Homo sapiens: one gene and its partners. The protein of the gene in region 1 purifies or fractionates together with the protein of each later gene. This does not show direct contact. Each region holds a gene or a part of one and is shown in the gene's direction. Other genes may lie near its edges.

Region 1 (3,658 bases):
AACAGCCTCTTAAAGGAGGAGAAATGCTAGCACTCACCATTCTGGACATCTTGAGAGCCCAGTAAAATGATGAGTTGGACTGAAGTGTTCAATAAACATGAGATTGTGGAAATAATCTCATTTCTTAAGACAAACCAGTAGTTGAGAATAATGATTGCATTATGAAGGGCACGTTATAGGGTCAGGCTCTGCCACGCTCTAGCTAGGTGGCCTTGGGAAAGCTCTTTTTTTTTTAACAAAGTAAAATGGGGAAATGATGGCCATTTTTTTGGATTGTTATGAGGGCTAGCTCAGAAACCGCGTGTGAAACATAACACAATACTTTGTTCAGAGAAGATACTCAATTCTAATGGTAAATAGAATTGCTGTTACTAGCTTTTTATTCAACTACACATAAATTGAATTGCATGAATTGTTCTTTTAGTAGTCACTACGTTGTTTATATAAACACTACGTTGTTTATATATTTCACTTTATAATGAAATAAATGACAAGGCATGTATTTTTTTTTTCTTTTTAGGTTTATTGAAGTCAAAATGTCCAAAAAAATCAGTGGCGGTTCTGTGGTAGAGATGCAAGGAGATGAAATGACACGAATCATTTGGGAATTGATTAAAGAGAAACTCATTTTTCCCTACGTGGAATTGGATCTACATAGGTAAATGAGTTACCCCTCCGTGTAGCAAACTCAGAAAGGATAATCTGGCTGGGCATGGTGGTGCACACGTGAAGTCCCAGCTACTTAGGAGGCAGAGGCAGGAGGATCCCTCAAGACCAGGAATTCAAGTCCAGCCTGGGCAACAGAGTGAGACCCCATCACTTTAAAAAAAAAAGGAAAAAAAAGGGAAGGAGAAACAGGAAAAAAAAAAAGAATATAATCTGAATTATTTTGAGGTGAAGTTAGCTTTTTTTATATAGATATAGCTGTGTTTTGTGAATAAAGTTTGTTTTAAGCCTAAATATATTCAGATGAATCTTCTAATTTTAACATACTGCTAGAAAAACTGGATTTATCATCTAAAAGTCAAGAATTATAAGGGAAAGAATGATTTTCAGATTCTTCTAACCTTCTGTTTCCTGTGAAGGTTTTATTTGTAATAAAACAGTGGCTAAGAATAGTACAATGTATTGAGAAAAGGGAAATAAGAGAGGATGTAAGAAACAGTAAACTAAATGCAGTTAACACAATTTTGTCATTTCAAACTCAATTTTCTATCACTTTACTTAGTCAATGGACCTGTTTCCTTTTCATGCCTCACCTTTTGCCCTTTTCATACAATTGTAGTGCAGAAAGAATTCATGATGTTTCTTAGTTGAACCCCTCCTTTCCAGCAAAATTCCCTTAAATCCTGTGTCCCTTTGCCCTGTGTGTAAAGTGCCTGGGGACAGATGCAAAAGTCTATGTAATTCTCTCATTTTTTTCGCTGTGTTTTTCATAAACTTGCTTCTGTTCTTTGTACCTTTAGGTAGAGATAGAATTTTTAAAAGGGTAAAGTGGCTGAAGACTGGCATAGAAAAATATTGAGCAACACGTTTCAGCCAAACTATTGGCAACTCTAAGTGTGTTTGCCTCAGCCCAGAATTAGTCATCAAAATTTGTCCTAAGGACCTGTTTGAGTGGAGACATTTAATTCACATAATGTCATTAAACATACTTTTTAATTGTTCTAAACCTAAGCTGCTGATGTCTATATTGAAATCATGATAAGATATAAATACTTGCAGAAGTCAACCAAACATAAGAAATTAGGCATAAAAACATCTTCCAACTAGGTTAAAAAAAAAAAGCATCTTAGGAACTCCTGTTTCAGGACTTTACATGACAGTAGGTGAACTGGCAGGGTTCTTTTCCTTATAATGGCTGCAACTAAAGATGCTTTGAGCCTCTTTAGTGTGGAATCATGAGGAGTTTTAAAGGGGAGTCACTATGACTAGGAGGAAAAAATTTGGTGGCTGCAGACTAGATAATTTTTGGAGGCTCAAACAAGTTTTAAATTTTTCCAAAATTCCTATTATTATCACTGACTGGTTCTTTTTCAGGAGAATGGAGCAGGTAGTTTGTTTTATGTAGGCTGGACAGTGGTCTGGGCAATTTGTTCCTTCCTTTCTTATCTTCTTAGAAATGTTAAGAAGACAAGCAAAAAATCTAATAATTTGCTGATAGATTCTCCTTATGAGAAATGGTTCCTAGGAACTTGAAAACTACTGATCATACTTCCTGTTGGAGTTGGGATTGGATCAACATTTCCTATGCAAGAAGATAACAAAGGACATGACTTTGTTAGATTTATATGAATTATCTAAAGTCGAAGCAGTTGGAAGTTATTTTTATTTGGAAATATGTCAAGATTACTATCTCTTTGTTTGCATCATGAGTTGGGTAGGAGATCTAAGAAAGGAAGATAAGGGAACCAAAAAGAAATCTAGAGGCAGGTTTTAAGAGCTGAAAAACCTTTTAAATCCTTGGAGAACAGAATAAACAAAACATTATTTTGTTTTCTTGCTTTTTAACAAACTATTGCATGCTTCAAATAAAGCTTTGCAGTCATTTTCTATGCTCCCTGGACAACTAACATTCTTTCAGCTCTGAATGACCTGCAATCTTTGTGTTGGTGTATATTAAGCTATTACTCTCTGGTATGTAGAAAACCATTGATGGATTCCTTTACTTACCCAATAAATTGTAGGCTTGTTTCCAGAGCAAACACTTGCTCAAGAATTACAGAAGGAATTAGCTGGGCATGGTGGTGCATGCCTGTAGTCCCCGCTACTGGGGAGGCTGAGGCGGGGGAATCACTTGAACCCAGGAAGGCAGAGGTTGAGTGAGCCAAGATCGTGCCACTGCACTCCAGCCTGGGCAACAAAACGAGACTCATCTAAAAAAAAAAAAAAAAGGGAAAGGCTCATTTTATGACTAACTGGCATTAATGAAGTAGTCATTCGCATTTTTGGCATCAACTGTCACATCTTTACCTCCCACCACTTCAACGTCAAAATACAAAAAATCCTTTAACCCCTCCCACCCCCTTTTATTTTTAAAGAGCAATATTTACTAAGGGAAAAAGGTGGTCCTTAGACTTACACTTATTATACTAATTATATGGAGAGAAACCAGGCCATTATTGCCTCTATCTGGTGAAAAACAGGAGGCAAAGGGCAGAGTTTGATGGTTTCCATTCATTTTCCTGATAGACAGCTTCCCATTACAAGAGGAGGGGCAGCCCAGCAGTCTAGCCTCTCTTAGTTCTCTTTGTAGTTGGCACCCATCTTCTGTGTTTAGGGTGTGCCAGTGCTAAAACTTGGCAGATTTTGGTGTACTCAGAGCCTTCGCTTTCTGCATAATGAGCTCTATATGCCATCACTGCAGTTGTAGGTTATAACTATCCATTTGTCTGAAAAACTTTGCTTCTAATTTTTCTCTTTCAAGCTATGATTTAGGCATAGAGAATCGTGATGCCACCAACGACCAAGTCACCAAGGATGCTGCAGAAGCTATAAAGAAGCATAATGTTGGCGTCAAATGTGCCACTATCACTCCTGATGAGAAGAGGGTTGAGGAGTTCAAGTTGAAACAAATGTGGAAATCACCAAATGGCACCATACGAAATATTCTGGGTGGCACGGTCTTCAGAGAAGCCATTATCTGCAAAAATATCCC
Region 2 (3,658 bases), on another chromosome or scaffold:
TTTGTTTCCCCTTTGTAGCTGGGAACTTCTGGGGTAGGACGTTGTCTGCTATCTCCAGTTCCACAGACCCAACCAGTTACGATGGTTTTGGACCATTTATGCCGGGATTCGACATCATTCCCTATAATGATCTGCCCGCACTGGAGGTATTTCACTAGCATCATAGTGCTCAGCTCATTGGGAATAGAAATTAAAGCTGTTGAATATATGAATTAAAAGTACATTATATGACAGTAATGCAAATTTATCTCACTTAAGTTAAGCCACGATTTCAGACTTGTTCTCAGTAGCGATCAATTAGTTTCCAACACAGAGAAAGCTGAGTTCTGTGATCTACTCTGTACAGCCAGCCAACTACTTTAGATGTGTGTCCTTCATAACAGTTAACTTCGGTATACCTGCTTACTTACTAGGTAAAATTTCTGTTTTTAGCTAGCTTTTTAAAATTATGAAGTGGAAGACTTTTTAAGAAAGCCTTAAGTTGGCTTTAAAAGGCTATTTACTTTAGATTTAATTTAAGTAATTAATTTCTTTTTTTGAGACAGAGTCTCACTCTGTCACCTAGGCTGGAGCGCAGTGGCACAATCTCGTCTCACTGCAAACTCCGCTTCCTGGGTTCAAGTGATCCTCCTGCCTCAGCCTCCCAAGTAGCTGGAACCACAGGCACACACCACCACACCCAACTAACTTTTCTATTTTCTTTAGAGACATGGTTTCGCCACGTTGGCCAGGCTGGTCTCGAACACTTGACCTCAAGTGATCTGCCCACCTTGGCCTCCCAAGGTGCTGGGGTGACAGGCATGAGCCACTGTGCCCAGCCAGATTTAATTTAGGTACATTTGTGTATTAGAAAACAGGCTGGGCATGGTGGTACATGCCTGTAATCCCAGTGCTTTGGGAGGCCAGGGCTGGAGGAGCACTTTGTGTTCAGGAGTTCAAGACCAGCCTGGGCAGCATAGGGAGAGCCTGTCTCTACAAAAAAATTTAAAAATCAAGGTCAGGCGCGGTGACTCACGCCTGTAATCGCAGCACTTTGGGAGGCCGAGGCAGGCAGATTGCTTGAGGTCAGGAGTCGAGACCAGCCTGGCCAACAGTGAAACCAGAGACAGTGGTGAAACCCTGTCTCTACTAAAAATACAAAAAAAAATTAGCTGGGCGTGGTGCTGTGCGCCTGTAATCCCAGCTACTTGGGAGGCTGAGGCAGGAGAATTGCTGGAACCCAGGAGGCAGAGGCTGCAGTAAGCCAAGATCGTGCCACTGCACTCCAGCCTGGGTGACAGAGTGAGACTCCATCTCCAAAAAAAAAAAAATGAAAATAAATAAAAAATTAGCTGGGCATGGTGCGCAGCTACTTGGCAGGCTGAGGCAGGAGGATCACCTTGAGCCCAGGAGTTCGAGACTTTAGTGGGCCATGTTTGTGCTGCTATACTCCAGCCTGGGCAACAGAATGAGGCAAAAAAGGAAATGTAGGCTAGTGTAACTTAAAGGTGAGGTATTTGGAGCTTCTGATAATTGAATGGCAGTGAATTTGAAGTCAGAATTTACGTTAGTGCGAAAACTTGATTTGCATACTTAATGTAAAATATGTGTGGTATATGCTTTCAGATTTCCAAGTGTGGTAGAAAGGAAGTTATTAAAACTTATTCCTGTTTCTTCTGTAGCGTGCTCTTCAGGATCCAAATGTGGCTGCGTTCATGGTAGAACCAATTCAGGGTGAAGCAGGCGTTGTTGTTCCGGATCCAGGTTACCTAATGGGAGTGCGAGAGCTCTGCACCAGGCACCAGGTTGTCACGTTAGCTGTTTGTGATAAGGCTGAATGTCGAGTTAGCTGTTTGTGATGAGGCTGAATGGGCTCCTCCCCAACTCCTCTCTGAATTCTGCTGATTGGATAAATGCAAAGATTAAATTACTTTCCACTAGAGGGCGATGGCATTCTAAGAGCTTAAGTACTTCCTAGTGCTTAGAAACCTGCACAGAAGCAGACTTTTTCCTGTCTCTGGCCTTGTCCTGGGCCCTGTGCAGAACTGCAGACCTGGTCTTAACAGCGTTTCCTTCCTCGCTGCTCTAAGAGCCTTTCACTCTGAGCCCCCGCAAGCCCTTTGTTGTATTCTCTCCTCCTTTCCCCCAGGGCTAATAGTAGTATATTTTGTTTACCATTTGAGAGTTTCTGTCACATATTAAATGCTTGTGGAATAAACAAATGAATTAATTTGTTCCCAGAGGGTAGTTAGGTCCAGAAAAGCCATACAAAACCCTCACCTTTGCATCAGCACCTTTTCACTATGTAGAGCAGGGCAGAATGGGCCTCTAGGGAGATAGTGGCCTGACAAAGGAAATAGTTGGTGAGTCTACAAGATTCTTATAGGATACTCTTGAAATTGTGTGCAGTTAAAACATTTTTACAAATTTGAGGGCACATCAGAATTACACATTTATTGTTGGTGGGGGGACAGTGAAATAAGGATGGCTATTTTCCCTGTGGAAACGAAAGTGATCACTAATAGGGGTATTTTTTTTCCCCAATAGGTTCTCTTTATTGCTGATGAAATACAGACAGGATTGGCCAGAACTGGTAGATGGCTGGCTGTTGATTATGAAAATGTCAGACCTGATATAGTCCTCCTTGGAAAGGCCCTTTCTGGGGGCTTATACCCTGTAAGTTTCATGTTCCCCCTCTTTCCATTTCCTACTCTTGTAAAATATACCCCTAAAGTATTTATACATCAACTGATTGTGACAACAATGCTTTCAGATTGTTTGATTTTACCAAGTGTGCTGCAGGCCACCCGGAATATCTGTAATAAAAACATTTAAGGGACCAGTGTGTGACCCACTTACTTATTGCCTGAAGAATTGAGTGTGCCTTGGAATTTGCTATGACATTGGATTTGGGTGGAAACAGTTTACCCCCAAAGGACTCCTGTAGACTCCTGTCCTTTTTTCCAGTGTTCAGAAACATGGCATATTACTAATTGTTTAAAACCATGACTGGTGAACAAAGAGACTGAGAAAAATTAATGTTTGTTGTAGTTCATGTCTTGGGTTTGCCTTTCAGAGCCAGTAATTGTTACTACATCAGAGGTCTCTGAAGTATAGATGTTTTTGCTGAATAGACAAAACTTTTGCTAAAAAGAATGCTCAGCTTTGTTTTTTAAGCATTTAAACAAAGCATTTCATCTCGACGTTGGAAGTGATTGTGAAATTATATCATTGCAGAAATAGCTTTTCTCTTTTAGTTGCAAAATTATATTGTTTTGTGCCATTGAAGTGTACCTAAAGTATTTGTAATGTTTTAGGGTATGACTAAGTCATTAGGTTGTTACTGGTAGTTAGGTTGGCAGATGTAAACTCTTTCGTTGAAGTCATTAAGTATCAGTTTCTTGGCCGGGTGTGGTGGCTTATGCCTGCAATCCCAGCACTTTGGGAGGCCGAGGCAGGCAGATCACCTGAGGTCATGAGTTCGAGACCAGCCTGGCCAACATGGTGAAACTATATCTCTACTAAAACTACAAAATAAATAAATAAATAAATAACATGTGTGGTGTGGTGGTGGGCACCTGTAATCCTAGCTACTTGGGAGGCTGAGGCAGGAGAATTGCTTGAGTCCAGGAGGCAGAGATTGCAGTGAGCTGAGATCACGCCACTGCACTCAAGCCTG
Region 3 (2,833 bases), on another chromosome or scaffold:
TTATTTGGTAAGAACTGTGGTCTAAAAGAACTCCCACCCACTGAACCCTACATCAACTGTATTAAATTTTACTATGAGACAAGGAGAATTTCTGCTCTTTTCTGGTGCTGCCCCAGCTTCTCCCTTATACAAATCAGCAAATCTATCTTCAAATCACAGACAAAGCCAGCAGGTAGCATGCTTATTACTCAGAACAATAGGTATAGTGCATGCTTTGGCAGTGGAAAACAAAGAATTCAATCAAAAATGATTAATAATCAAAGAGGAGGGGCCAGGTGCGGTGGCTCACACCTGTAATCCCATTACTTTGGGAGGCCGAGGCAGGAGGATCACTTGAGGTCAGCAGTTCACAACCAGCCTGGCCAACATGGTGAAACCCCATCTCTACTAAAAATACAAAAAATTGAGGTGGGTATGGTGGCACATGCCTGTAATCTCAGTTACTTGGGAGGCTGAGGCATGAGAATCACTTGAACCCAGGAGGCAGAGGTTGCAATGAGCTGAGATTGCTCCACTGCACTCCAGCCTGGGTGATGGAGTCAGACTCTGTCTCAAAAAATATAATAACAATAATAATAATAATAAAAGAGGAACCAACTGTGAATCTATATAGGACAGTATAAGGAAAAGAGAAAGGTACAAGGAAAAACAAGTGTTAGAGAATATTCGCCCAAAAAAAATGTTGCCATGGAGCAAATAAAATTAGTGCTATTTCAGATTTAAAACCTTTAAAATGAGAAAGCAGAGATTTTACGAATTCAGGGAAGATAGAGTAAGATATTATAAGAAGATCAAATGGGAGCTATCAGAGTTCAGGTAGGAAATTGAAAAGAAAAAATAAAGCTATTGGAAATTATGGTGACATTATTAATAGAAACACCACAAAGAACACTAAATACTTCTGTAAGGACATTAAGGATGGAGATAAGTGAGCAAAAGGAAGTAGAAAGGAACAAATAATTTTTAAAATATTAGGCAGAAAAATTATTGATGCAGAGGAAAAATAAAATATGTGGAGTTGCCAGAAAAAAATAAGAGCAGAACAAATGGAACCTGCATATAATAATAATTGTCACACAATTATTAACACTGAGATATACCTCGCTTGATATATTGGGCTTCAAAGACAATTCCTTTGGTCACCTAGACAGTAAGATCAAGGCCTCCAGAGGGGCCAGAAGAGGAGGATCAGTATGGACCCAGACTCTTCTTACATCAGCAGTCAATATTGGCAGATAGTGTGGAAGTAGCTGGAAGTTTCTAGGGAAAGTGGACACACCTAACTCCACCTCTTAGAAAGACTAAAAATCAAAGAATGACAAAAACATACCAAGAAAATAGAAATTGAAAGAAAGCAGTTTGAATTCAGAGCAAAATAAAAGTGATAAAAGTAAATAAATTTAAGGCAAAAATAGCACTTTATAATATTATGGGTAAGATCCTTAGTAGTTGTTAAACTTATAAAAGTTGTCAAACTTATTTCATAGTAAGGGAAATGAAAAATAGAACTGCAAAGAAATTTTATCTCTTAGATTGGAAACAACCAAAACAACTAAAAGTTTCATAAAACACTCTCACAAATTGAGAGTGGGAGTATAATTTGTAAAATCTCTATGGTGGTTAGTTTGAAAATTTCTGTTCAGATGTGATTTCCCATACCCTTTGATCCAACAATTCTACCTCTACAAGTGTTTTCTTGTGGATTTATTTGCACATTTCGAATGACTTATATTCAAGGATTTTCACTGAGGCATCATTTGTAATAGCAAAATATTGTAAACAACAAAATTATTCACCAGTGGGGGCTGCTTGAATAAATGATGCTACATTCAGATCAACCTAAATGCCCATCAATGCTGTCATTGGATAAAGAAAATGTGGTACATATACACCATGGACTACTATGCAGCCATAAAAAAGAATGAAGTCATGTCTTTTGCAGGAACATGGGTGGAGCTGGAGCCTATTATCCTTGGCAAACTAACACAGGAACAGAAAACCAAATATCACATGTTCTCTCTTATAAGTGGAGCCAAAAATAATGAGAACTCATGAACACAAAGAAGGGAACAACAGACACTGGGGCCTCCTTGAGGGTGGAGGGTGGGAGGAGGGAGAAGAGCAGAAAAGATAACTGTTGGGTGCTGTGCTCTTAATACCTGGGTGATGAAATGATCTGTACAACAAACCCCTGTGACATGAGTCTACCTATGTAACAAATCTTCACATGTACCCCCAAACCTAAAATAAAAGTTAAAAATAAATAAACAAGAACAATAAAAAATATACAATTTTAAAAAGAAAGATGGATGAAAATCTCTGGAAAAATATATAATGAAATCCCAGTGTTGTCTCTGGAGAGAAAAACTGAGTGGCTGAGGAAGATAGGTGGGAAGCTGACTTACTTTAAAACAAATATTTTTAAATGCTCTCAACCTAAAAGTTTCAAGAACTTTTTTCTAAACTATTTCAGAGTAAGTTGTCAACTTAATTACTGAGGATGCTCCGATCACCCCCATATACTTTCTTGTGTATTCTTCATAAACAAGACATTCTCCTCCCAAACCACAATATAACCCTCAAAATCATGAAGTTAACCTTGATACTCCATCTAATCCTCAGATCTGATTTAAATGTCATTCATTGTCCCAATAATGTCCTTTTTATAATAATTAATTAATTCAGGCTAGAATCATGCATTGCATTTAGTTGTCATGTCTCCTTCAAGCTAGAATGGTTTCTCAGTTTTCTTTGACTTTCATGATCTTGATACTTTTGAAAATTATCAATGAATTATTTTTAAGAAAGTACCTCAATTTAAGTTTGATGTTTC

The links.
Region 2: the proteins of IDH1 (region 1) and OAT fractionate together in Homo sapiens (co-fractionation; one large-scale study listed by BioGRID). This does not show direct contact.
Region 3: the proteins of IDH1 (region 1) and KYAT3 fractionate together in Homo sapiens (co-fractionation; one large-scale study listed by BioGRID). This does not show direct contact.

The regions. Positions count from the first base shown.
Region 1 is NC_000002.12:208,248,430-208,252,087, reverse strand, and holds part of IDH1 (isocitrate dehydrogenase [NADP] cytoplasmic), read left to right. Parts: intron 1-520; 5' UTR 521-536; coding exon 537-658; intron 659-3,427; coding exon 3,428-3,658. UniProt on the Homo sapiens protein: Catalyzes the NADP(+)-dependent oxidative decarboxylation of isocitrate (D-threo-isocitrate) to 2-ketoglutarate (2-oxoglutarate), which is required by other enzymes such as the phytanoyl-CoA dioxygenase.
Region 2 is NC_000010.11:124,401,924-124,405,581, reverse strand, and holds part of OAT (ornithine aminotransferase, mitochondrial isoform 1 precursor), read left to right. Parts: intron 1-18; coding exon 19-146; intron 147-1,661; coding exon 1,662-1,784; intron 1,785-2,526; coding exon 2,527-2,655; intron 2,656-3,658. UniProt on the Homo sapiens protein: Catalyzes the reversible interconversion of L-ornithine and 2-oxoglutarate to L-glutamate semialdehyde and L-glutamate.
Region 3 is NC_000001.11:88,937,808-88,940,640, reverse strand, and holds part of KYAT3 (kynurenine--oxoglutarate transaminase 3), read left to right. Parts: intron 1-2,833. UniProt on the Homo sapiens protein: Catalyzes the irreversible transamination of the L-tryptophan metabolite L-kynurenine to form kynurenic acid (KA), an intermediate in the tryptophan catabolic pathway which is also a broad spectrum antagonist of the three ionotropic excitatory amino acid receptors among others.